Linked DNA regions of Homo sapiens: all the other regions are reported to be linked to region 4. Evidence: microRNA targets listed by miRTarBase, many of them from high-throughput screens and not tested one by one. Region 4 holds a microRNA gene; each other region holds the end of a gene's coding sequence.

The links. The annotated mature microRNA hsa-miR-1281 reads UCGCCUCCUCCUCUCCC and lies in region 4 at 1,836-1,852, shown strand. An mRNA with a match to its seed (bases 2 to 7 or 8) in the 3' UTR can be bound and repressed. Matches are read on the target gene's strand: a 7mer-m8 pairs with bases 2 to 8, a 7mer-A1 pairs with bases 2 to 7 and ends in A, and an 8mer does both.
Region 1: miRTarBase lists SIT1 as a target of hsa-miR-1281. The part of its 3' UTR that is shown has no 7-base or 8-base seed match.
Region 2: miRTarBase lists BRMS1L as a target of hsa-miR-1281. The part of its 3' UTR that is shown has no 7-base or 8-base seed match.
Region 3: miRTarBase lists TMIGD2 as a target of hsa-miR-1281. Seed matches in the 3' UTR shown: 7mer-m8 at 1,664-1,670.
Region 5: miRTarBase lists GTPBP10 as a target of hsa-miR-1281. Seed matches in the 3' UTR shown: 7mer-m8 at 3,006-3,012.
Region 6: the mRNA of SMAGP is a reported target of hsa-miR-1281. Seed matches in the 3' UTR shown: 7mer-m8 at 1,465-1,471.

Annotation. Positions count from the first base shown.
Region 1 is chr9:35,646,152-35,650,175 of GRCh38, forward strand. SIT1 (signaling threshold regulating transmembrane adaptor 1) reads right to left here. Exons shown (of 5, transcript NM_014450.3): 5 at 3,144-3,930. The coding sequence ends at 3,697. It overlaps LOC101926948 (a long non-coding RNA gene), which reads left to right and starts at 119. Exons shown (of 2, transcript NR_135130.1): 1 at 119-282; 2 at 539-1,325. It also overlaps a transcript of CD72 not described here. RefSeq lists enhancers at 291-670, 3,531-3,580.
Region 2 is chr14:35,869,689-35,873,748 of GRCh38, forward strand. It overlaps BRMS1L (BRMS1 like transcriptional repressor), which reads left to right. Exons shown (of 10, transcript NM_032352.4): 10 at 672-2,275. The coding sequence ends at 789. Among named protein-coding and RNA genes, the nearest start is that of BRMS1L, 45 kb to the left of the region's middle.
Region 3 is chr19:4,290,061-4,294,096 of GRCh38, reverse strand. TMIGD2 (transmembrane and immunoglobulin domain containing 2) reads left to right here. Exons shown (of 5, transcript NM_001169126.2): 5 at 1,212-1,870. The coding sequence ends at 1,498. It overlaps SHD (Src homology 2 domain containing transforming protein D), which reads right to left. Exons shown (of 6, transcript NM_020209.4): 6 at 3,375-3,650. The coding sequence ends at 3,464. Among named protein-coding and RNA genes, the nearest start is that of TMIGD2, 10 kb to the left of the region's middle.
Region 4 is chr22:41,090,710-41,093,709 of GRCh38, forward strand. MIR1281 (microRNA 1281) reads left to right here and starts at 1,804; the gene lies at 1,804-1,857. EP300 (EP300 lysine acetyltransferase) reads left to right here and starts at 1,883. Exons shown (of 31, transcript NM_001429.4): 1 at 1,883-2,389. The coding sequence starts at 2,296. RefSeq lists silencers at 784-1,073, 1,174-1,943, 2,124-2,223 and an enhancer at 2,334-2,573.
Region 5 is chr7:90,384,257-90,388,316 of GRCh38, forward strand. It overlaps GTPBP10 (GTP binding protein 10), which reads left to right. Exons shown (of 10, transcript NM_033107.4): 10 at 636-4,060. The coding sequence ends at 898. Among named protein-coding and RNA genes, the nearest start is that of CLDN12, 17 kb to the right of the region's middle.
Region 6 is chr12:51,243,446-51,247,446 of GRCh38, forward strand. It overlaps SMAGP (small cell adhesion glycoprotein), which reads right to left. Exons shown (of 4, transcript NM_001031628.2): 3 at 3,306-3,386; 4 at 1,113-2,674. The coding sequence ends at 2,496. It overlaps DAZAP2 (DAZ associated protein 2), which reads left to right. Exons shown (of 4, transcript NM_014764.4): 4 at 1-488. Among named protein-coding and RNA genes, the nearest start is that of DAZAP2, 6.6 kb to the left of the region's middle.

The DNA.
Region 1 (4,024 bases), not on the chromosome of region 4:
CTTCGCCTCAAAAAAAAAGAAAAAAAAAAAGAACTTCCTGCTGTTGAACCTTTGACTGTCCCGGAGACCCTCCCTCTTCCGTTTTCAATGTGTCCCTATCCTCCTAGCTAGGCTTTAAGAAAGAGGAGGGACAGCTGGGGCCCTAGGAGCTCCCCCTGAGGGTCTGTCCCTGGGAACGGGGCGCTAGGACGGGCACTCCTTCTGGCTGGAATGCTACGCCGGTGAGGGAAAGGAGTCCACTAGGGAAGTACCTGGAGGTGGAGACGGGGAGAGAAATCACAGGTATTTGTGAGTCGATCAGCTAGAGGGTGTGGCAAGGGGGGGCCCCTCGGAAGATGTCTTAAGTTCCAGGTTCAGGAATCAATAGGGAAACTGCCCAGTCCTTGTGTTCAGGGCTGAGGGCCTCGGTGACGGAGACGAGGTAAGAAAACGGAACGGCTGTACAGGAGAAGACAGAGAATCCGGGCTGGGGGACGGAAAACAAAGTTCAAATCATACCCCGCTACAGTCACATATGAAAAATAAAATTGTTTTACAGAAACTCAGTTTACAAACGACTGCTTGGGAGCAGTCATGTCACCCAGTCCAGAGGGAGCCGGTCAGCTGCGTTCCGCGAACTTGGGAGGCGACTGCTGGGGTAGCGGCGGGGCCCTCACTGCGCGTCGTCAGGGACCAGACCCTGGGGTGGCCCCGAAGCGTCGAGACTACAACTCCCGGGATGCCGCGGGCCAGGCTGCATCCCGCCTGCGCAGAAGTGGTGGCAACTCCGCCCCTCGCCAGGCGGCGGCGCTGCGGACTCAGTCCTAAGCGGGCGAAGGCGGCGAGCGCCGTGGGTCTGGGCGGGCCAGGAGAACCGGGTGCTTCGAGGAGATCTGCGGGCTGGGTTGGGGGCGTTTGACCCCTTGGCTTGTCCCAGTGGGTAGGCGGGACTCCAACCCCCGCCTCCTCCAGGGTAAAGCTCTCACGTCCACCTGGCGCGACGCTGAGCCATCTTCAGAAGCACCGCAGCCCTCAGAACCCCACATCCCGCTGCCGGTGGTTCCCCGCATCCGGTGTCCGCCCCCGAAGCCTCCCTCCCTCCCTCCTCCGCATCCCCAGCTACCTGCCCTTAACCGCGACCTGGGCCTCTCCTGGGGAGGCCCAGGGTGGGGTCCTCAGAGGTCCAGGGACCCAGGGGCATTTGTGGGGTCTGTAGGGGGGTGGGCTTAAGGGAAGGGTGGTCCCTTTCAAATTGGGACCACCAGGCAGGAATCAGGCGCACGGGTTCCTCCTCTGTGGCTTCCTGTGGCACTCCAAGTGGGAAGAAGAGAAGCTTGGAAGTGAAAGCCTCAGCTTCTCCTTTCTTCAGCCCCTCAAGCCTCAGAAAGATCTGTCAAGCGCGGCCCGCCTCTACAGAGGCCCTGGGGAGATGGTCTAGACCTTGAAATATCCTAGAAGAGGTTTGACAGGTTGGAGCTTTTGCTAGACAGATGGATCACAGATGGGCTTAAGGGGTGGAGGGTGTGTGTGTGTTTGTGAGAGAGAGAGAGAGAGAGAGAGAGAGAGAGAGAGAGATTGCCAGGTGAGGAAGGTGATGAGCTGAAACCAACTTGGAGCTATGCTGTATTATGATGATGAGGATTTGGGTTGGGGGGTGTTACAGGCTCTAACCAGAAATCTGGAAGATGTGATAGGTGGGGCCTTTAAAAAAAAAAAAAACCCTAAACATCTCTTTGTAATCCATCCCTCCTCTGCATCCCTACCGCTACTGCCGCCATCCCCTCTCACTCAAATCTTGCAATAGCCTTTGAAAGGCGCCGCCTGACTCCAGACTGCTGACCACTAGATCAGCACAGCAGCCAGTGGAGTTAGAGCCTTTAACTCACTGTGTTCATCCCTCGCTTAAAACTTTCAGTGACTCCCTTTCACCTCCCCTGCAGGATAAAGCCCAAGCTCCTTGGCATGACTTATGGGCGCAGTGTGATCTGGCTCTGTCTGCCCCTCCAGCCTCATCTTACCATTGCCCCCATCTCACTCTACCCTCCGCTGTGCCTAATGCACTTCTGCCAGGTCCTCTGAATAAGCCTCTCCTTTGCCTGTGGTTCCCTTTGCCTTGGAGCATTTTCTGTCCTTCGCTTCTCCTGGCAGATTCCTACTATGTGTCATGTCTCTACCTAGAAGTCACTTCACCTATGAGCTCCCATAGAGGATCCTGTATTTCTCTTATTTTAATAATGCCTAGCATTATTGAGCATTTATTGTCTAAGTGCTTTACAAATGGTAACTCATTCAGCCTCACAACCACCTTTTTTTGAAGTAAACACCGTTAATATCCTCTCAATCTTACAGATTCAGAAACCGAGGCACAGTTGCCCAAGAACACACAGCTGGTAAGTGGTAGACATGGAATTTGAATGCAGGCAGTCCGGCTCCTGAGCCCAGAGTCCTAATCTCTGTGCCAACTGGCTGATGTAGCATGCTATATGGGGTAGGAGGCTGGGGTTAAGAATCAGCAGGTGATGGGTGGACAGGCAGGACAAATTAGATGGGGATTAAAATGAAAGTGGTGACAAGCAAAACTGTTGCCAAGACTGCAGGTGACAACTGAGAGAGTGAAGGCCAGGCACGGTGGCTCATGCCTGTAATCCCAGCACTTTGGGAGGCCAGAGTGGGAGAGAGTGAGTGGAGATGGACCGCTGCCATAGTGATGGGGTAAGGAGAAGGCCTCTAGGGGTATACGATGACTAAGTGCAGATAAGGCTACTGATGTCAAAACAGGGGTATAGGTGGGACTCATAGCGGACAGACGGAGGTCAGATTGGAGGACTTGATGAAGGAACCAGGCTGGCAGGTTGTGGAGGTGATGGCAGTTATAGAGGTCAAGGGGAGAGTAGCTCAGGACTGTGAGCTTGCAGCCCCAGGGGGAATGCAGTGGCTCTGAGTGCAGATCCCAGGGGTGTTCTAGCAGCAGCAACAGCAGCTGAGGAGCTGGGCTCTGGCCCTCCACCCCGGTGCCCACCTCTGCACTGTTGATGCCGCAGCCCCTCTTGGCCCCTCATCCCCAGCTAGGCACCCCCAGAAAGAGCTCCGTGCAGACAGCAAAGCTCACACCCCCATCTGCAGGGCCCTTTGCAAGTCTTCAGCCTTCTAGGTAAAAATCTAAACACTTTTTGGAAAGTTTTATTTGAAAACTTGGGGACAGGACAGAGACAGCAGGATGGAGACTGTATTCTCCTGCTAGGGTTCTTAGGTCAAAAGCCAGGCTCGGGTCCCTCCCGTCTCTAAGTTCCAGGTCCACTCCAGTCTGTGGACTCCTGAGGAATATACCCACCCACCCACTGTCAGGCCCTTACCCCTCCCCCACCGCCCACTTCCTGTGCCTGAGGAGACACTGAGGCGTGGGGGTAGACTATGAGGGAGCGGGGGTGGGGAGGATCTGGTTAAACTCCAGAAGAAGGAAGTGAGAACCTGGGAGTTTGGGGGCTAAGAGGAACAGATAGAAAAAAGAAATAAGGAGGGGGCTACTGTCTTTGCCTCCTCCATCACGAAAGCTTTGCCCTGAGATGTCTCCCTTGAAGCTCAGATAGGAAGTCCGGGGTAGATCACATCCTGTGACTTGGCAATGGCGCCCGTCTTTGGGTGCTGGTTGGGAAACAGTCATGCCCCTGCTACGGGGGGCTGGGGCAGTGCACGCCCCGCTGTGCCAGGCCCTCCATCTCAGCTGGCTGCAGGCTGGCTGTTGGCATAGGCCTGATCCGGGAAGGAGGCCCGGGCCCTGCGGGTCTGGGCACATACTGAGGCATAGAGCTCCGGCTCGGGGCCCGAGGCCTGGGACTTTGGCTCAGAGTCCAGCACCACCTCCGAGTACTTGACGGGGGTTCCAGGACCGGGGATCCGACCCTGAGGAGGCCGCAGCTGCAGGCTGGTATAGCACATCACCTCCTCTGCAGCCTGGAGATGCAAGGCTGTTAGAAGTTCACTGGACCCTCGGAAAAGCCCGAAAAGCCCCCCACTTCCTTCCCTCCCCCTTTTCTCCAGCCACAGT
Region 2 (4,060 bases), not on the chromosome of region 4:
TACAAAAATTAGCCAGGCATGGTGGCACGTGCTTGTAGTCTCAGCTACTTGGGAGACTGAGGCAGGAGAATCACTTGAACCGGGGAGGTGGAGATTGCAGTGAACTGAGATTGCGCCACTGCATTCCAGCCTCGGCGACAGAGTGAGACTCTGTCTCAAAATAAATAAACAAAAAATAAATAATTAAAAAAAGAATAAAATACAAATCTATTTAAAGAATAGATCTTTTTATGTAAAGATTAGTAGTGTAAAAAAAATTGGTATAAGTACCGTAGATGGTTTGACATTAGGAATTAGAGATTAGCATTTGAAAGATACTGACATGAGTTACAAGTATAATACCATATACATAGCGCTTTTAGCTCCAGTTTTTTTTTTTTTTTTTAAAGAGGTGGGGTGGGGATGGAGTAGGAAGAATGTGCTTTTAATAGTTCTAATAGAAAGTAAATTTTACGAACTCTATTAAGAAAAGAAGGATGATCTGCTGTGTTGCTGAATGTGATATTTTTGGCAGCATGTACTGCTGATATGCAGCATTCTGGTAAATGACAATTATATACCTGAGTCTACTGTTGTAGGCCAGTTTATTTTGGTTTTATATAGGTAATAATCTAAAGTGAATTGAGGAGACATTGTAATTCATTCATTCATTCTTTTTTTTTTCTTTTTAGTGCTGTAATTACAACAATTAACCATGATGAAGTTTGGTTTAAGAGGCCTGATGGAAGCAAATCTAAGCTTTACATTTCACAGCTACAGAAAGGAAAATATTCAATTAAACATTCATAATCATGATTTAAGTGTTATCTAAATTTACCTTATTAGTGTTACCAAATGTAAGTGCCATGAGAGTAAAAAAATGTATTCAATAACTTAATATTCTCACTGAATCATGAGAGAATGTGTATTTGTAGGTAGTACTCTAAATAGATCTCATTGATATGTTATTAAAAGAAACAGTAATAAAAATTTTATCACGATCCTTACGTTGATTTGCCTCTTAGGTCCGATGACCAATAGGTATTCTGTATATGGTAGGGGTTTCTTTCTAAACATTTTTCTTTGGTTTTAAAAAAAGTTATGCAAATTTGTCTTATCTTTAGTAAACTATGACTACATTTATCTGCAATTTTTAAAATTTTCCATATCTTTGTCATTCATTGTGTGTTTGTAAATAAGGCCGATAGAATGTTTCCTATAAATGGTTTGTACTAGTACATTAGTGTTAAACCAGAACTGAAATTTAAACATATATATATATGAGGATGTATATATGGCATCATCAGCTTATTTAGAACTGATGGCCATACCTTACAATCTTGTTTTACCCAAAATTAAGCTATTGGGGTTGAAAGCTAAAAGGAGCACTTTTGTAGAATAGCAACTTTTCTTTTCCTCTTTCTTGATTGTATGGTGGGGTGGTGACCTATTTTTACAAATTATACCTAATGAGTAAAATTAGTGTAAAGTGATAACATGCTTCTACCTGTATTTCTAGTGACCCTTTAGCGGCAGGTATTTATACCTGGTATTTATGATGCAGTATATAAGTGGTGAACAATAACTGACAGTATTGTGCTTGCTGTACATGTCTGGTCTTTTGAAACAGATTTTAGTAAGCATTTTCCAGAGGTAAAACTGTGTCCTTATTCTAATTTTATTCCTAGGGCAAAGTAGACAGGGATTATTTCCTTGAATCTATTTCCAAATTAATATTTTTTTCTTTGGTATTTCTACACTTTAAGGCCATTTGGTGCAATTTAGAAAGTGTTGGCCTCCCTTCCGCTAGCCACATTCAAAATTAACTTCCAAAACCTCAGGAACAGTACAAAGAATTGAAACCCTCAATATGGCAGCACAGCCGGCTGTAGTGTATATTTAGGGTACACCAAATCAGGTATTCCTGGTGGTCTTGTGCACTTTAATTTCTGTTACAATGAGTTAAGAGGATGAGGAAGAAATCTACTTATTAACACTTACTGCAGAAATGTCTGCATTATTCCGTTTGTTTTCTTATTATTTTACCTCTCCAAACATCTTCCTGTGCAGATCACTACTTCATAGTTGCCAAATTTTAAAACACTTAACTGCTGAAATTCAGTGTCAGCAAAGTGATATTACGTTGTTCTGTTTCTAATTAACCTTAGCAAATGTACATAATGTCAAAACCCAATAGTATTTGACAGTACTTATGTATACAATGTTTGATAAGCATTTTTAATAAGATTTGTATTTTTAAATTTAGTATATAATAAAAAGATGTGTTTCAGTGTGATTTGTAGTGTCTTGGATTACTTATGTGTATTTAGTTCTTTTTATAACCTATCCACTTGTAAGAAAGATTTGAATTGGTTTACGTTAATAGATATGGAGTAGGCTGGGTGCAGTGGCTCATACCTGTAACCTCAGCACTTTCTGGGGTATATTTAGATGTTCAAGACAGCTAAGTTATACTTAATTTTAAAATATATGCATATGTGTTGTACTTTGATTAAAAGGTACTGTATAAGTTAATGAAATTCTAAATAGAAAATCTTTATTTTTTTATTTTTATTTTTTGAGATGGAGTCTTGCTCTGTCACCCAGGCTGGAGTGCAGTGGCACGATCTTGGCTCACTGCAACATCTGCCTCCCAGGCTCAAGTGATTCTCCTGCCTCAGCCTCCTGAGTAGCTGGGATTACAGGTGTGCACCATCACACCTGGCTAATTTGTATATTTTTAGTAGAGACAGGTTTTTGCCATGTTGGCCAGGCTGGTCTCAAACTCCTGACCTCAGGTGATCCGCACACCTTGGCCTCCCAAAGTGCTGGGATTATAGGCATGAGCCATCACACCTGGCCTAGGAAATCTTTATTTTAAAACTATGATTTAGTACATTTATTTTCAAAACTTTAGTATTTATATCTTATGTAGTATTCTACCATAATATTAAGATTCATAAAAGCATATGCTTATCTATGACTAAAATGCTATAAAATATATTGTCTTATTGGCAGTTTGCCATTAGTTGTCTGGTCATAAAGTTTAATTTAGGAAAATTATTAGAAACTCCAAAATGTGATGTAGTGGCTGCTGCTGCTCCTGTGTTTATGATCAGCTTCTGTCTCAGGATCATTTCTTGACCTTTATTGTCACAGCTCCTAGTTTTTCATGTTCAATCCATCCCCTCCTTGCTGTTTCCCATTTTTTAAAAAGAGATACTATCTAAGTATCACTAATGCAATTCTTCAACTAATAATTATTGGCAAATAGTAATGGCACACTCCTGATTTGTCCCCTTTTTCACTGTTCATATTGGTGGGCTGGACACAGTACTTTTTTGCAGCCTTCTTCATGTAAAAGTTGTTCTGATGTATGCATTACTTGGAACACCAGTTGCAGAACCATGTATGCCTCATTAATAATTATTTAAAAAGAAGAAAAACTTCCAAAGATTCAGGAACAGTAGAAAGAATTGAACCTTTAATATGGCAGCACAACTGGCTGTATATGTGTGTGTGTATATATATATATATATATATATATATATATATATATATATATAACATTTTTTTTCCCATGACATAGCCTCAGGAGGTCCTGAGGACATGTGCCCCATATTTAGGGTACAACCAAATCACATATTTTTGATGGTCTTGTGCACTTTAATTTCTGTTATGATAAGAGTTAAGAAGATGAGGAAAAAATCTACTTAACACCTAGAGGAGAAGTTATCTGTTTTTTCTTTTTGTTTTTGGACCCAGTAAATCCAGTACAATAAAACTGAACTAAAATGAATTTCTCTTATAAGAAAATGGATATAGGATAGGCCGGGCGTGGTGTCTTAACGCCTGTAATCCCAGCACTTTGGGAGGCTGAGGCGGGCAGATCACAAGGTCAAGAGATTGAGACCATCCTGGCCAACATGGTGAAACCCTGTCTCTATTAAAAATACAAAAATTACCTGGGTGTGGTGGCGCGCACCTGTAGTTCCAGCTACTTGGGAAGCTGAGGCAGGAGAATCGCTTGAACCTGGGAGGCGGAGGTTGCAGTGAGCTGAGATCATGCCACTGCATTCCA
Region 3 (4,036 bases), not on the chromosome of region 4:
GACGCGGTCTCAAAAAAAAAAAAATTTAAAAATTAGGCTGTGCATGGTGTCTCATGCCTGTCATCCCAGCACTTTGGGAGGCTGAGGCGGGTGGATCACTTGAGGTCAGGAGTTTGAGACCAGCCTGGGCGACATGGTGAAACCCAGTCTCTACTAAAAATACAAACATTACCCAGGCGTGGTGGCCTGTGCCTGTAGTCCCAGCTGCTTGGGAGGTTGAGGCAGGAGAATCACTGGAACCCAGGAGGCAGAGATTGCAGTGAGCCCAGACTGCCTCACTACACTCCAGCCTGGGCGACACAGCCAGACTCCATCTCAACAACAACAAAAAAATTAGCCTGGCTTGGTGGCACACGCCTGTGGTCCCAGCTACTTGGGAGGCTGAGGTGTGAGGATTGCTTGAACCTGGGAGGCGGAGGCTGCAGTGAGCTATAGTTTCCCCACTGTACTCCAGCCTGGGTGACAGAGAGAGACCCTGTCTCAAAAAACAAACAAACAAACAAAAAGACAGTTTGAAATTAAAAAAAAAAAAAAATTGGCCGGGTGCAGTGGCTCATGCATGTAATCCCAGCATTTTGGGAGGCCACGGCGGGCGAATCACGAGGCCAGGAGTTCGAGACCAGCCTGGCCAACGTGGTGAAACCCCATCTCTGCTAAAAATACAAAAAATTAGCCAGACGTAGTAGCGGGGGCTTGTAATCCCAGCTACTAGGGAGACTGAGGCAGGAGAATCACTTGAACCTGGGAGGTGGAGACTGCAGTGAGCTGAGATCGCACCGCTGCTACACTCCAGCCCAGGTGACAGAGTAAGACTGTCTCAAAAAAAAAAAAAAAAAGGCCGGGCGCGGTGGCTCACGCCTGTAATCCCAGCACTTTGGGAGGCCGAGGCGGGTGGATCACGAGGTCAGGAGATCAAGACCATCCTGGCTAACAGTGAAACCCCGTCTCTACTAAAAATACAAAAAATCAGCCAGGCATGGTGGCGGGAGCCTGTAGTCCCAGCTAGTTGGGAGGCTGAGGCAGGAGAATGGCGTGAACCCAGGAGGCGAAGCTTGCAGTGAGCCGAGATTGCGCCACTGCACTCCAGCCTGGGCGACAGAGTGAGACTCCGTCTCACAGAAAAAAAAAAAAAGAGACAGATCCCCCAGAGGTCAGCTGGAGAGGGCAGGACTCTCTTAAGTGATCCTCTTGGTCTGTGTCATCCATCCTAGGAAATGCATTCTACAGCAACGTCCTATACCGGCCCCGGGGGGCCCCAAAGAAGAGTGAGGACTGCTCTGGAGAGGGGAAGGACCAGAGGGGCCAGAGCATTTATTCAACCTCCTTCCCGCAACCGGCCCCCCGCCAGCCGCACCTGGCGTCAAGACCCTGCCCCAGCCCGAGACCCTGCCCCAGCCCCAGGCCCGGCCACCCCGTCTCTATGGTCAGGGTCTCTCCTAGACCAAGCCCCACCCAGCAGCCGAGGCCAAAAGGGTTCCCCAAAGTGGGAGAGGAGTGAGAGATCCCAGGAGACCTCAACAGGACCCCACCCATAGGTACACACAAAAAAGGGGGGATCGAGGCCAGACACGGTGGCTCACGCCTGTAATCCCAGCAGTTTGGGAAGCCGAGGCGGGTGGAACACTTGAGGTCAGGGGTTTGAGACCAGCCTGGCTTGAACCTGGGAGGCGGAGGTTGCAGTGAGCCGAGATTGCGCCACTGCACTCCAGCCTGGGCGACAGAGTGAGACTCCGTCTCAAAAAAAACAAAAAGCAGGAGGATTGGGAGCCTGTCAGCCCCATCCTGAGACCCCGTCCTCATTTCTGTAATGATGGATCTCGCTCCCACTTTCCCCCAAGAACCTAATAAAGGCTTGTGAAGAAAAAGCAAAGCTGGTGTTTGTGGCGATTTGGGAGTGCTAAAAAGATCTGAAGAAATCGGGTGCGGTGGCTCACGCCTCTAATCCCAGCACTTTGGGAGGCTGCGGTGGAAGGATCACTTGAAGCCAAGAGTTTGAGACCAGCCTGGGCAATAGAGCAAGAAGACTCCATTTCTACAGAAAATTTAAAAACAAGGCCAGACGCGGTGGCTTGCGCCTGTAATCCCAACACTTTGGGAGGCCGAGGTGGGCGGATCACCTGAGGTCAGGAGTTCGAGACCAGCCTGGCCAACATGGTGAAACTCCGTCTCTACGAAAAATACAAAATTTAGCCGGGCGTGATGGTGCAGCTGATGTCTCTGGTCTCAGATATTTGGGAGGCTGAGAGGGGAGGACCACTTCAGCCCTGGAGGTTGAGGTTGCAGTGAGCTCTAATTATGTCACTGCCCTCCAGCCTAGGTGGTAGAGTGAGACCCTGTCACATACACGCACCAAAAAGACTTAAGGGGTCATCTGGGGTCCCAGAGCTCTCAGGGGTGGCTGGAGAGGCCCACTGTGGCCAAGGGACTTTGTGGCAACTCAAAGCCCCCCTCCCACCTTATAGGGACAAATCCAAGGAGGAAGAAGTGGTACTCTGGCTTCCAAACAGTCCCCTGCCATGGAAGACCCCCCCCGCAGCTGGCATCACTCCCAGGCAGGCCTGGAGGTGGGGAGAAGAAGGGGAGGTCAGGAGATTCATGGTGTTTACCAGCCCCCCAGGTCTCCTGCCTGCCTGGCCTGTCACCTTGAAGTGACACCAGCTAGGCCCAGCTCCCCTCCCCTACTTCTGCTGTTTCCATGGGGACAGATGTCCTTTCTGCAGATCAAGCCACTGCTGCCGGGGGGAGGGAGCGGGGCTGGCCCGAGAGCCTGGCCCCCCTCAGTTTCTCCATCTTTGTATCTGTCGGTTTCTATGGAGTGCGGTTTTTAATCTGCTCCACGACGCTCTGTCTCTTGCTGAGTTCTGGTCCCTCCCTATGGGAGATTCAGGTTCCAATCCCAACTCTGTCCCCAAAACAAAGTGCTGGGGATGTGCTTGGCCCTCAAGGCCTCGAGGGTTTTTTATGTTTGTTTGTTCTGAGATGGAGGCGTTTCACTCTTGTTCCCCAGACTGGAGTGTAATGGTGCGATCTCAGCCCACTGCAATCTCCGCCTCCTGGGTTCAAACGATTCTCCTGCCTCAGCCTCCCGAGTATCTGGGATTAGACGCATGCGCCACCACGCCCGGTTAATTTTGTATTTTTAGTAGAGACGCGGTTTCTCCGTGTTGGTCAGGATGGTCTCGAACTCCCAACCTCAGGTGATCTGCCTGCCTCAACCTCCCAAAGTGCTGGGATTACAGGCGTGAGCCACCGTGCCTGGCCTCCTCCAGGGTTTCAATTACCCCATTATCCCCCTCTCCAGGGCTGCTTAGGGCTTTCCCGCTGGGAGTCAACGATCCCACTTCCCTCTGTAGCCCAGAAAGGACACTAAGACAAACAATAACTTATTTATTTTCTAGGCCATGGGAGGGCTTTGGGATACGATTCTGGGCCCGAGGACTCAAAAGGGGGCCGAGGGTCACTGTCAGGGGGTCTGCGTGACCACGGGGTACAGCAGAGCCAGATGCTCGGCACCCTGCACCGGCAGTGGGCGTGAACTGTAGTGGAGGACGAGCTCGGGCACGCTGGGGAAGGGCCCGCTGTGTTGGCCCAGCACCACCTGGTTCTCACGGGTCCGCGCGAACTTCAGATGCAGGAAGCCCTGGCTGCTCCTGGGCGATGAGGGAGAAAGGGACTCCTGAGCATCCCGGACCCACCCAGAAAGGCACCATCCCCAAAGCCACCTCCCACAGTGCCCAGGCCAGGTGCTCGTGTGTCTCCAGTCTCTGGTAAACAGCAGTGTGGTGGCTGGTATACTCGCTCACACCTGTAATCCCAGTGATATGGGAAGCTGAGGCTGTAGGCTTACTCCAGGCCAGGCGTTAGAGACCAGCCTGGCCAACAGAGTGAGACCCCGTCTCCACCAAAAAACATTTAAAAATTAGGCGGGTGCGGTGGCTCACGCCTGTAATCCCAGCACTTTGGGAGGCCGAGTCAGGCAGATCACTTGAGGTTACGAGTTTGAGACCAGCCTGGCCAACATGGTGAAACCCCATCT
Region 4 (3,000 bases):
ACTAGACTTTATATTCCAGCATTTCCTCTCACCATTACATTTTTGCTTTTTTCCATCCTTACATTACCTTTACCACATTTTTGTTTTTCCCATAATTACATTAGATAAGGCAATGGCTAGACGTGGTCTTTTACTAACTTGTTCTATTGGGAGCGGACGAGAAAAAAAAAAAAGACAAACCCTAGAAATGTCTTCAGGTCCCAGCCATGTTTAGGAAAATACTTGAAGGCTTCTGCGGTGAGAGTGCTACCTGGTAAGGGCGTATGGACACACGTGGAGGGCAAGAAATGAATTTGGGTCTGGTGCCGAAACATCTTTCCACTGCTGTGATTTTGTTTTCTGGTCAGAGTAATAATGCTCGTTGTAAAATAAATAAATAAATAATACATAAAAAGGAAAAGGAAAATTCAGAGAAAATGAAAACAACTCGTAATCAACGTGCTTTTTGGATGTGAACTGCTCCCTTTGGGAGGGCAATGGAGAAGTGAGGACGCACTGGGTATCTGGCCCGGAACAGCCGGCAGTGGGTACACCCTGCCTGGTGAATTCGACCGGGGTTTTGGGGGACCCGCCACCCAAGGGCCGAAGAGCAGGGCCGCCCTACGGGCGCTCCCATTTGGCCACCTGAGTGGCGACTTGGCGCCTTCCTCGGAGCAGCTCCGGGGTTCCGTCGTCCCGGTTCCCACTGGTCCCTTACGCAGAGACCAAAGGCAGGAACCTTCCCTCGTAACTATCCACCGACTGAAAATAGATTCTGAGTCCGCCCCCGCCCCTCCCCCCTTAAAATCCTCCCCACTCTTAAAATCCTCCCCTTTAAAGGGAGCCACAGGGTGACGCCGGGGGAGTTTGCGGAAGCGCTAACCGCGTTGGGGCCTAGGGCGGATCCCGTGATTGGGACAGGCCCCGCCCCCGGCTCCACTTCCCCCATTGTGTGAGCGGCTCGGGCCTAGGCCCCGCCCCCCTCCGGAGGCCCGGCCACTCCCCTTTTCCACCCCCCCTTGGCTCATTTCCGGCCGCCGCCGCTACCGCTAGCCTGTAAGGAGGATTCGGCAGAGGGAAGAAACAACAGCCGCCATCTTGTTTGTGTGCTAGGCTGGGGGGGAGAGAGGGCGAGAGAGAGCGGGCGAGAGTGGGCAAGCAGGACGCCGGGCTGAGTGCTAACTGCGGGAGCCAGAGAGTGCGGAGGGGAGTCGGGTCGGAGAGAGGCGGCAGGGGCCGAGACAGTGGCAGGGGGCCCGGGGCGCACGGGCTGAGGCGACCCCCAGCCCCCTCCCGTCCGCACACACCCCCACCGCGGTCCAGCAGCCGGGCCGGCGTCGACGCCTAGGGGGGACCATTACATAACCCCGCGCCCCGCGGCGTCTTCTCCCGCCGCCGCGGGCGGCCCCGAACGGAGCCCCGGGGGGCGGGCGCTCCCAGCACCTGGCCGCCGGCGGTGGGGGCCGTAGCAGCGGCCGTATTTATTTATTTTCCGCGGGAAAGGAAGGCGAAGGAGGGGAGCGCGGCGCGAGGAGGGGCCGCCTGCGCCGCCGCCGGAGCGGGGCCTCCTCGGTGGGCTCCGCGTCGGCGCGGGCGTGCGGGCGGCGCTGCTCGGCCCGGCCCCCTCGGCCCTCTGGTCCGGCCAGCTCCGCTCCCGGCGTCCTTGCCGCGCCTCCGCCGGCCGCCGCGCGATGTGAGGCGGCGGCGCCAGCCTGGCTCTCGGCTCGGGCGAGTTCTCTGCGGCCATTAGGGGCCGGTGCGGCGGCGGCGGCGCGGAGCGCGGCGGCAGGAGGAGGGTTCGGAGGGTGGGGGCGCAGGCCCGGGAGGGGGCACCGGGAGGAGGTGAGTGTCTCTTGTCGCCTCCTCCTCTCCCCCCTTTTCGCCCCCGCCTCCTTGTGGCGATGAGAAGGAGGAGGACAGCGCCGAGGAGGAAGAGGTTGATGGCGGCGGCGGAGCTCCGAGAGACCTCGGCTGGGCAGGGGCCGGCCGTGGCGGGCCGGGGACTGCGCCTCTAGAGCCGCGAGTTCTCGGGAATTCGCCGCAGCGGACGCGCTCGGCGAATTTGTGCTCTTGTGCCCTCCTCCGGGCTTGGGCCCAGGCCCGGCCCCTCGCACTTGCCCTTACCTTTTCTATCGAGTCCGCATCCCTCTCCAGCCACTGCGACCCGGCGAAGAGAAAAAGGAACTTCCCCCACCCCCTCGGGTGCCGTCGGAGCCCCCCAGCCCACCCCTGGGTGCGGCGCGGGGACCCCGGGCCGAAGAAGAGATTTCCTGAGGATTCTGGTTTTCCTCGCTTGTATCTCCGAAAGAATTAAAAATGGCCGAGAATGTGGTGGAACCGGGGCCGCCTTCAGCCAAGCGGCCTAAACTCTCATCTCCGGCCCTCTCGGCGTCCGCCAGCGATGGCACAGGTTAGTTTCGGCAGCCCCGGCCTTCCACGTTCCCTTTAATCTTTTCTACTCGGTGCGCCTTTATTCTTCCATTTTTTTTTTCTTCCTCTCTCTCTAGTTCCCTGCCCCTTAATTAATTTTAAAGGTATTTGAATGAGCTGGTCGAAGACGTCCAGTAGCCCAACCATTTTCTTTGCCTCCTAATACATTGATTGCAACACTATGTCATATCGGTGTGTGTTCTGGAATTAGAGCTCGTAAGTGGGTGCTATATAGAAATGGCCTGTATTGTTGCTCTCATGCAATTTAATTTGGGAAATGCCAATGCATTTGTGTGTAAGAGCTCCTATGCAATTTAAGTTTCATTTTTTTTGTTCTTGGCAAATGAATTTCGAATCCTTTCTCTTTACTGTACTTACTGTGTTTCCTCTACTTTCCACTCTTCGAAATTTTCTCTCCTTTGCAGAATATTTTCTGTTGAGGAATAGGGTGTAAAAAAATCTTGATTTTGTGTGTGCGAGGTCCAAGATTTCAGGTTAGAGGTGAAGTTTAACAATTCTTTTATCTTACCTACCATTCTTAGCTTTTTTTTCCTTTTTCTTCTTATTTGCTTTAAGAATCAATATGGAGCG
Region 5 (4,060 bases), not on the chromosome of region 4:
TTCTAGTTCATATCAGTTAATCCATCTAATCAGTATGCCATCTCCCCAGCCAATCAGTATGCCATGGTGACAGGGAAGAGGTAAAAGTAATATAACAATTGTTAGCCCTTGTGGGGTGATAGATTGGACTCATCTGAAATTATCTTCCCTTGAATTCTCTATAATCCCTCTTCAGTTTTTGTATGGATCCTAGCATCATTGATGATAAACCTATACTTTGGGGAAGTTAAAGGTCTCCAGTGTACTGAGGCCAAGTAGAATGTCTCAAATCATAAATGATGTTATTATTTTTACAGAAAGTATCTTTCAGAGAATCAATGCTGCCTTGCCTTATTTAACCCCCCCCACACACACAAAATTTATTACTTCCTTAAGTAAGTCATTTTTGTGATTCATCTTCTACTCATACTTAGTTTGGTTTAAAATATATTTATCTAACAAGTATGTTATGTGCCAAGAACCTTACCATAATCAATGGTAAAATCCAAAGGCTCTGAGAACTTATTAGAAAAGGTGAAAAAAGGCATGAAAAATGCTGGTGTTGGTTCCCTGCTTCACAAATCAAACCATTAACATGGTTTTAACTAACTTTCGAAAACAATGGAAATCAGCTTTGTTTGTGCTCTTTCTTTTAGATTTTCTGCATTTATTTGAAAAAAACATGATTCCAGAGAGGACTGTAGAGTTCCAACATATCATCCCCATATCTGCAGTTACTGGAGAAGGAATCGAAGAATTAAAGAATTGTATAAGAAAGTCACTGGATGAACAGGCCAACCAGGAAAATGATGCACTTCATAAGAAACAGTTGCTTAATTTGTGGATTTCTGATACAATGTCTTCTACTGAGCCACCATCAAAGCATGCTGTTACTACTTCCAAAATGGATATAATTTAAATATATTAAAAATGGTATTGATGGAACAGTATTTAATGCTTAAAAACAAGGAAATCCTTTCATCTGTGACAACCTGGAGGACATGTTAAGTAAAATAAGCCAGGCTTAGAAAGACAAATGCTGCATAATCTCACTGTGGAATCTTAAGTTGAACTCATAGAAGGAGAGAATAGAATGGTGGTTATCAAGGGCTGGTGGGGCAGTGGAGGATTGAGGAGATATTGGTCAAAATTTACAAAATTTCAGTTAGACAAGGCAACTGAGTTCAAGAGATCTGTTGTACAGCTTGGTGACTGTAATTAACAACAATGTATTTTGAAAGTCACTGAGTAAATTTTAAGTGGTTTTTCCAAAAAAGCACATAAGGTAATGCACGTTAATTAGCTATATTGAGCCATTCCACAATGTATAGATATTTCAAAACATGTTACACATGATAAATCCAGTTTTTCTACGTCATTTTTTAAAATTATATTTAATTTTTTTATTTTGAAAGTTTTTTCACAGATCTTTTTTTTAGTATTATTACCTTCTGATATATGTGTCATTATTGAAGAACCATACCTTTTAAAGTTATTATTTTGTAATTAAGTATGTCAACAGTAAAAAATAACCAGTGGCCAGGCATGGTGGCTCATGCCTGTAATCCCAGCACTTTTCGGAGGCCGAGGAGGGCAGATCACTTGAGGTCAGGAGTTCAAGACCAGCCTGGCCAACATGGCGAAACCCCGTCTCTACTAAAAATATAAAAAATTAGCCAGGCATAGTGGCGCATGCCTGTTGTAGCCCCAGCTACTCAAGAGGCTGAGGCAGGAGAATTGCTTGAACGCGGGAGGTGGAGGATACAATGAACCCGAGGTCGCGCCACTGCACTTCAGCCTGGGTGACAGAGCTAGACTCCATCTCAAAAAAAAAAAAGAGCTAAAAAATTACATTTTACAAGTTTATGGCCAGCCCACCTGTAATAACATTCTCTGATATTCCTTTACTTAGGATGTCCCTATTGAGATCATTTTTTAAATTTATGTGGAAGGATTCTCTAGATTATTATTAGAATGAGCAATTCAGTTTTGTTTGTTTTTGAGCCTGTCTTGTACCTGGTTGCACTAAATATATAATAGTTATCTTTTGTGGAGACCTTAAAACCCTAAATTTGAATACATGTTCAATGATAGTAAAGATATGACAGAAACTAGAAGATAGCTGTTTATGATTTGAGCTTTTGGAAAATTTTCGTTTCTTGAATGTAATAGTATTTTTTCCTGAATTGGAGGAGACTGATCTATATTGTTTCATTTTTCTTTTGTCCTAGTCTATTTCACTTTCTTTTGTCATAATCTATTTAATTTCCCACTTTCTTATTTTAGTAAAGAGAGAATAAATAGCAAGTGCAGGCCAGGCATGGTGGTGCAGGCCAGACATAGCGGTACATGCCTGTAATCCTAGCACTTTGGGATGCCAAGGCGGGAGGATTGCTTGAGCCCAGGAGTTCATGCCTGAGCAACATAGCAAGACCCTGGCTCTCTATAAAACAGAAAACGCAAACTTTAATATTATCAACAATCAATATATTATAAGAGATTGCAATTTCTAAGTTTCTACCTGAGTGTTTCACAAATACAAACTGGACATTTTCCCTTTAAATGAGTTTTATTATAAAATGTACATATTGATTGTAAAAACAAAAAATTCAAATAGTACAAAAGCATATAAGTAACTAATAAAAGCTCCCTTTCTGCATTAGGCCCCTCAGTTCTTCCCAGGGAAAATGATTAATAGTTTACATTCTTGCAGAAATTTTTTATGTATAAATTTTTACCCAAATGAATTCATTATATAAATTTTTTCCAACTTAGTGTTTTTTTACATAATAGTAGCAAGTTAAAAAATTGTACTTCAGGCCAGGCACGGTGGGTCACGCCTGTTAATCTCAGCACTTTGGGAGGCTGAGGCAGGAAGACCACTTGAGGTCAGGAGTTCAAGACCAGCCTGGCCAACATGGTGAAAACCCATCTCTACTAAAATACAAAAATCAGCTGGGCATGGTGGCGCATGTCTGTAATCCCAGCTACTCGGGAGGCTGAGGCAGGAGAATCGCTTGAACCCGGGAGGCGGAGGTTGCAGTGAGCTGAGATTGCGCCATTGCACTCCAGCCTGGAGGACAAGAGGGAGACTTCCTCTCAAAAAACAAAATATTGTACTTCAAAAAATTATTCTTCAATGCTATTTTTAAATTACTAGAAATTATTTTGGAATTTAATGTTGCATACAGCCTGAGATATGGCTGTTCACCCTTTGGTAAAGTATTAAAGAAAAATAATGCATTGTTCTCAGCTTAAATTTTTTTCTGATTTGACAACATGAGTGATGTTTTCCCAGTATTATTTCAATTATATTTGTTTTATTTTCTGTTCCTCACTCCTACCTCTCATTCCAGTCCCCAAACTGGCTTTTCTTTTATTTCTTTTTTCTTCATTGCTGATGTATTTATTGAGCAATGTCCTGTATCAGGCACTGTCCAAGGTGCTGTATGTGCCATGTTGAAGAGAACAGACAGGACCTACTGTCCTTGTATATCTTGCCTTTGATAACAGAAACTGCAGGGGATTGGAATAGCCTCTTTACAAGAAAAGAATAAGAGTGAGGAAAAGCGTTTGGAATTTATAGTGATCACAGTGACCAGGTTTTGTATTGGGTATGTTTTACATTTGTAACTTCAGTGCTATTTTTTTTTAAGCTCCATTGTTTTCTAAATGTAAACAAGTATCAATGTAAGGACAGTTTCATCAGGTGAATATCAGAAGTACTGACACCATAATCTCATTTTGCACTGTGGCAAAGGGTAGTAGATGTGTGTTCAGGATTATTTGCTCTGTCAGTAGTGCCCAGGGTGCCACTCCATGACTAACCGAAACATTTTATTATGTGACTCACTAAGATGTTCAATTCATTAGTATTTTCTGGTTACTCAAAGTGTACTCTATGTACCTTTTTTTGACCTTTGATTTTTATTCTGATGGAGAAGATCAGATTCCTTTTTTATCTTATAAAAAATAATTTTGAAACAAAGACTTATTTTGAAGTAAGTCTTTTAACATTATCTCAGATGCATTTTATTTTGTCCTTAAGTAAGACTTTTCATTTTTACCTTTCAAAATGCAA
Region 6 (4,001 bases), not on the chromosome of region 4:
TAGACTGGGTTAATAGGGTCATATTGTGAATGTCTCACTACAAAATGACTTGAGTCCAGTGAAATCTCATTAGGGTTTAAGAATATTTCAGGGATCCTTAATGTTTTGATTTTTGTTTTCTGAAATTGGATTTTATTTTATTTTATCTTATAATTTCAGTTCATCTAAATTGTGTGTTCTGTACATGTGATGTTTGACTGTACCATTGACTGTTATGGAAGTTCAGCGTTGTATGTCTCTCTCTACACTGTGGTGCACTTAACTTGTGGAATTTTTATACTAAAAATGTAGAATAAAGACTATTTTGAAGATTTGAATAAAGTGATGAAGTTGCATTACACCTCACTGCAAGGATTCTTTACTTAGCTTGTTTTTAGATTTCTTCTATATATATTTTATTTATATCCCATCTAGAATTCAGCTAGGTGCTGCTGCTGCTCTGTTTCCTTTGATGACGCTTTGAAATAAAGGCAGGAGTACAAGCCTAAGACTTGATCATTTCATGAATTCCATTCCAGATGTTCAACTTTTCATCATTTTACTCCAACCTCTTACAAATTTTGGAATTTCGGACCTAAACTTAGAAATGAGGGAACTATTGATTCTCCTAACTTGCTCTAAAGTTTGGCTTGAAGAAAAGGTTCTGGTATAGCAATTTGTATACGTTGAGGATGACCTTTAGTTTCTCCAATGTTCTATGTGGAGAAATACTGAAAACTCATAGAATCTAGGTTGCCAAGATAGATTCCTCAGCTCTTTTATTTATTTTTTGAGACAGGGTCTCCCTCTGTCACCCGGGCTGGAGTGCAGTGGCAGTGTCTGCTCACTGCAACCTCCACCTCCCGGGTTCAAGTGATTCTCCTGTCTCAGCCTCCTGAGTAGCTGGGATTACAGGCACCTGCTACAACACCTGGTTCATTTCTGTACTTTTAGTAGAGACGGCTTCACTGCGTTGGCCACGCTGGTCTCAAACTCCTGACCTCAAGTGATCTGTCTGCCTCAGCCTCCCAAAGTATTGGGATAACAGGCAGTGAGTCACTGCACCCAGCCAGATTCCTCAGCTCTTGATCTTAACTTGGTTGGGTTTGAGCTTGGACAACAGAGGCAATACATTAAGACTTCAAAGGAGATCTAGCTTTAATTCCAAAGTGAACAATATCTGATGAGCTAATAATTTATACCAAAATGTGCCTTTTAAACACAACTTATCTTGAGACTAAAATCCAAGAAGCTTCTTGGCTTGATTCTGAGGATACACTGGGAAAGGTGGTAGGTTGATTTTTTCTGGTTCCTTCTGTATATATGTAGAAGGGATTCTGGGAAATTCTGGCCCTTGCCAGGATGGAGGCTTGAACCAACTCATCTCCCAGGGTACTTTTTTTTTTTTTTTTTTTTTTGAGACGGAGTCTCACTCTGTTGCCCAGGCTGGAGTATAGTGGTGCAATCTCAGCTCACTGCAAGCTCCGCCTCCTGGGTTCAAGCCATTCTCCTGCCTCAGCCTCCCAAGCAGCTGGGACTATGGGCGCCCGCCACCACGCCCAGCTATTTTTTTTATATATTTTTAGTAGAGACGGGGTTTCACCGTGTTAGCCAGGATGGTCTCGATCTCCTAACCTTGTGATCCGCCTGCCTCGGCCTCCCAAAGTGCTGGGATCACAGGCGTGAGCCACCGAACCCGGCCCTCCCAGGGTATGTTTCTAATGATGTTCCCCTGGAACAAGCTTTCCTGCACCATCTTTGTCTCAAATCCCTGAGATAGTTCTGCAAACTTCTAGAACTTTCCTAGGGTTCTTATTGCTTGGAAGAGAACATATGTAAAGGCGTTAAATAGGGAAAAGAAAATGTCAAAAATGTTTAAGCAAAAATAAGTCAAAATGTAGTTACTTCTTGCACATGAGAATCTGATTTCTGTAGCAATGAAAATTTTTAATTTGAATAAAAATCACGTAAGCATGAGGTTGTTGGGGAACACGGAAAGGAAGGGCTCAGATTAGGGGGTGTAGCACATTTATCAGGAGGTAAGATCTCCATAGTCTCCTACCCCTCCTGGCCTGGCCTTTTACTGTGGTATCCAGCCTCTGGGAAGACCTTGTATGGACAGTATCTCCACTGGGGCTATCACTAGGTGACCAGGTAGGGGACAGAGTAGAGCAGCCAATGACCTTAACTCAAAATCTTTTCTCTCCCTTCAACCTGTGAAAAAAGATGACTGGGCACATACTCAGATGTCCCCTGGCATAGCCACATCTTGTTGGCCAGTCACAAACACCAGCTCTAGTAAGAGGGCCTGGTTAAAGATATCATAAACAGCTTTCTCCATGTCCCTGGTCCCTGGAGTCAGTGATGTCGGCATTTGGGACTGCGACCTGGCTGGAGCTTGGATTTGCCCACATCAATCAATGCTTCTCCCTGGCTTCAGAGAAAACTTTCCCATAATAAGCAGTCAACGTGTTAGCGATGGAGCCAGGAATAAGCTCCTTGGGGCCTGGGAGTCATTAGATGAAATATTCCTCTTTCTCGCTGCCCTTGGCCAAGTCACTCTCCATCTGGACGATGGCACTGGGCTCACCTTCTGTAGGTTCATAGGTGACGTAGCTGCCTTTGTTCTTGTACAGGTAAAAGAAGATCAAGATCACGACCGAGAGCAGGGTGAGGAAGACAACGGTGATAACAACTTGGAAAGGAGAGGGAAAATGTAGAGATGTTTCAGGATTGAGGATGTCTCAGTAGTTCCTGGAGTCATCTGATTTAGTCACTGTTTTCGTAAAGATCCTCTTGTTTTCATTAACTAGTGTCCACTTCCATCCAAACCCATGTTCCCCCACCAACCCCAATTTCCATGGCACATAATAGCTGGAGTCTCCTGGTGCTTAAGCTAAGGACACATGCTTTTGATTTCTGACAAAACTGAACTGCCTCCCAAACCAGTTCCTGATTCTTAAAGAAACGGGAAGGAGGGAACAGGAAATGGCTTATCCTAACAGGAAGTGGTTTATCTGATCCTCCCCCTCTTCCTCACCCACTCAACCAACCACATATATCCTCGTCCCTACCCACGTACTCAAGTGTAACGTCCGTATGCATATCTATTTGCGGCCACCTCCCAACCTGTCATTTACTGGTAGTGCCTCTGACAGAAGCCTCCGAGTCTTTTATGGCTGTGTGTGTGTGTGTGTGTGTGTGTGTGTGTGTGTAATATAACTTACAAGCCAGAGTGAGCCCATTAATGGATTTGGTCAGGCTCCCTCTGGAGAGAGATGCCCTTGATCCAGAAGGTCCCTTGGAGTTGGCTCAGAGTCTATTACCTGCAATGAGTGCTGTGCTGGCTCCATCTTCTGGGGACAGGGCCTCAGTGGGCTGTAAAATTGGGGTGGTCATCAGTTCTTCTGGAAAATGTAGAAAAGTGGAAAAGGAAATGGAGTGAATTCTTTTGTTTGAAAGCATATGTTTGGCCTTCAAATTTCACCACCCCACCTTCTTCCCTATTCAAAAGTTTATCATTTAACTCCTAGAGTATATCCAAATAGAAAATCCTAGAGAATAAAGAAGAAAATAAACCACCACCCAAAGACAATATGTTGATGGATTTCTCCCTGCATAATATAGTGATTAAGAGTAGGGGCTATAGAGCCTGACAGACTGGGTTTCAAATATGAACTCTGTCCTTTACTAGCTGTGTGACCTTGGGAAAATTACCTAACCTCTATCTGCAAAATGGAGGTAAGAGTACCTACTTTAAAACGTTGTTGTGACATTTAATAAGTCACTCAGTAGGATAAGCCATTATTAGGAATGCATATTTTTACAATAAGTGAGATCAAATGAGTTGTATGTGTATATATTTACATTATATTATATAGCATGTGCATTTTCTTGCAGCATTCTTACTAATTCTTTGTAAACATTATTTTAACATAATGAAATAGTGCTCCTCTCCTATTAAAAACCCTTTTCTACACTTCCAGGATAGGCCCTGCAATTTGAAAGGTTCTGAAACAGGC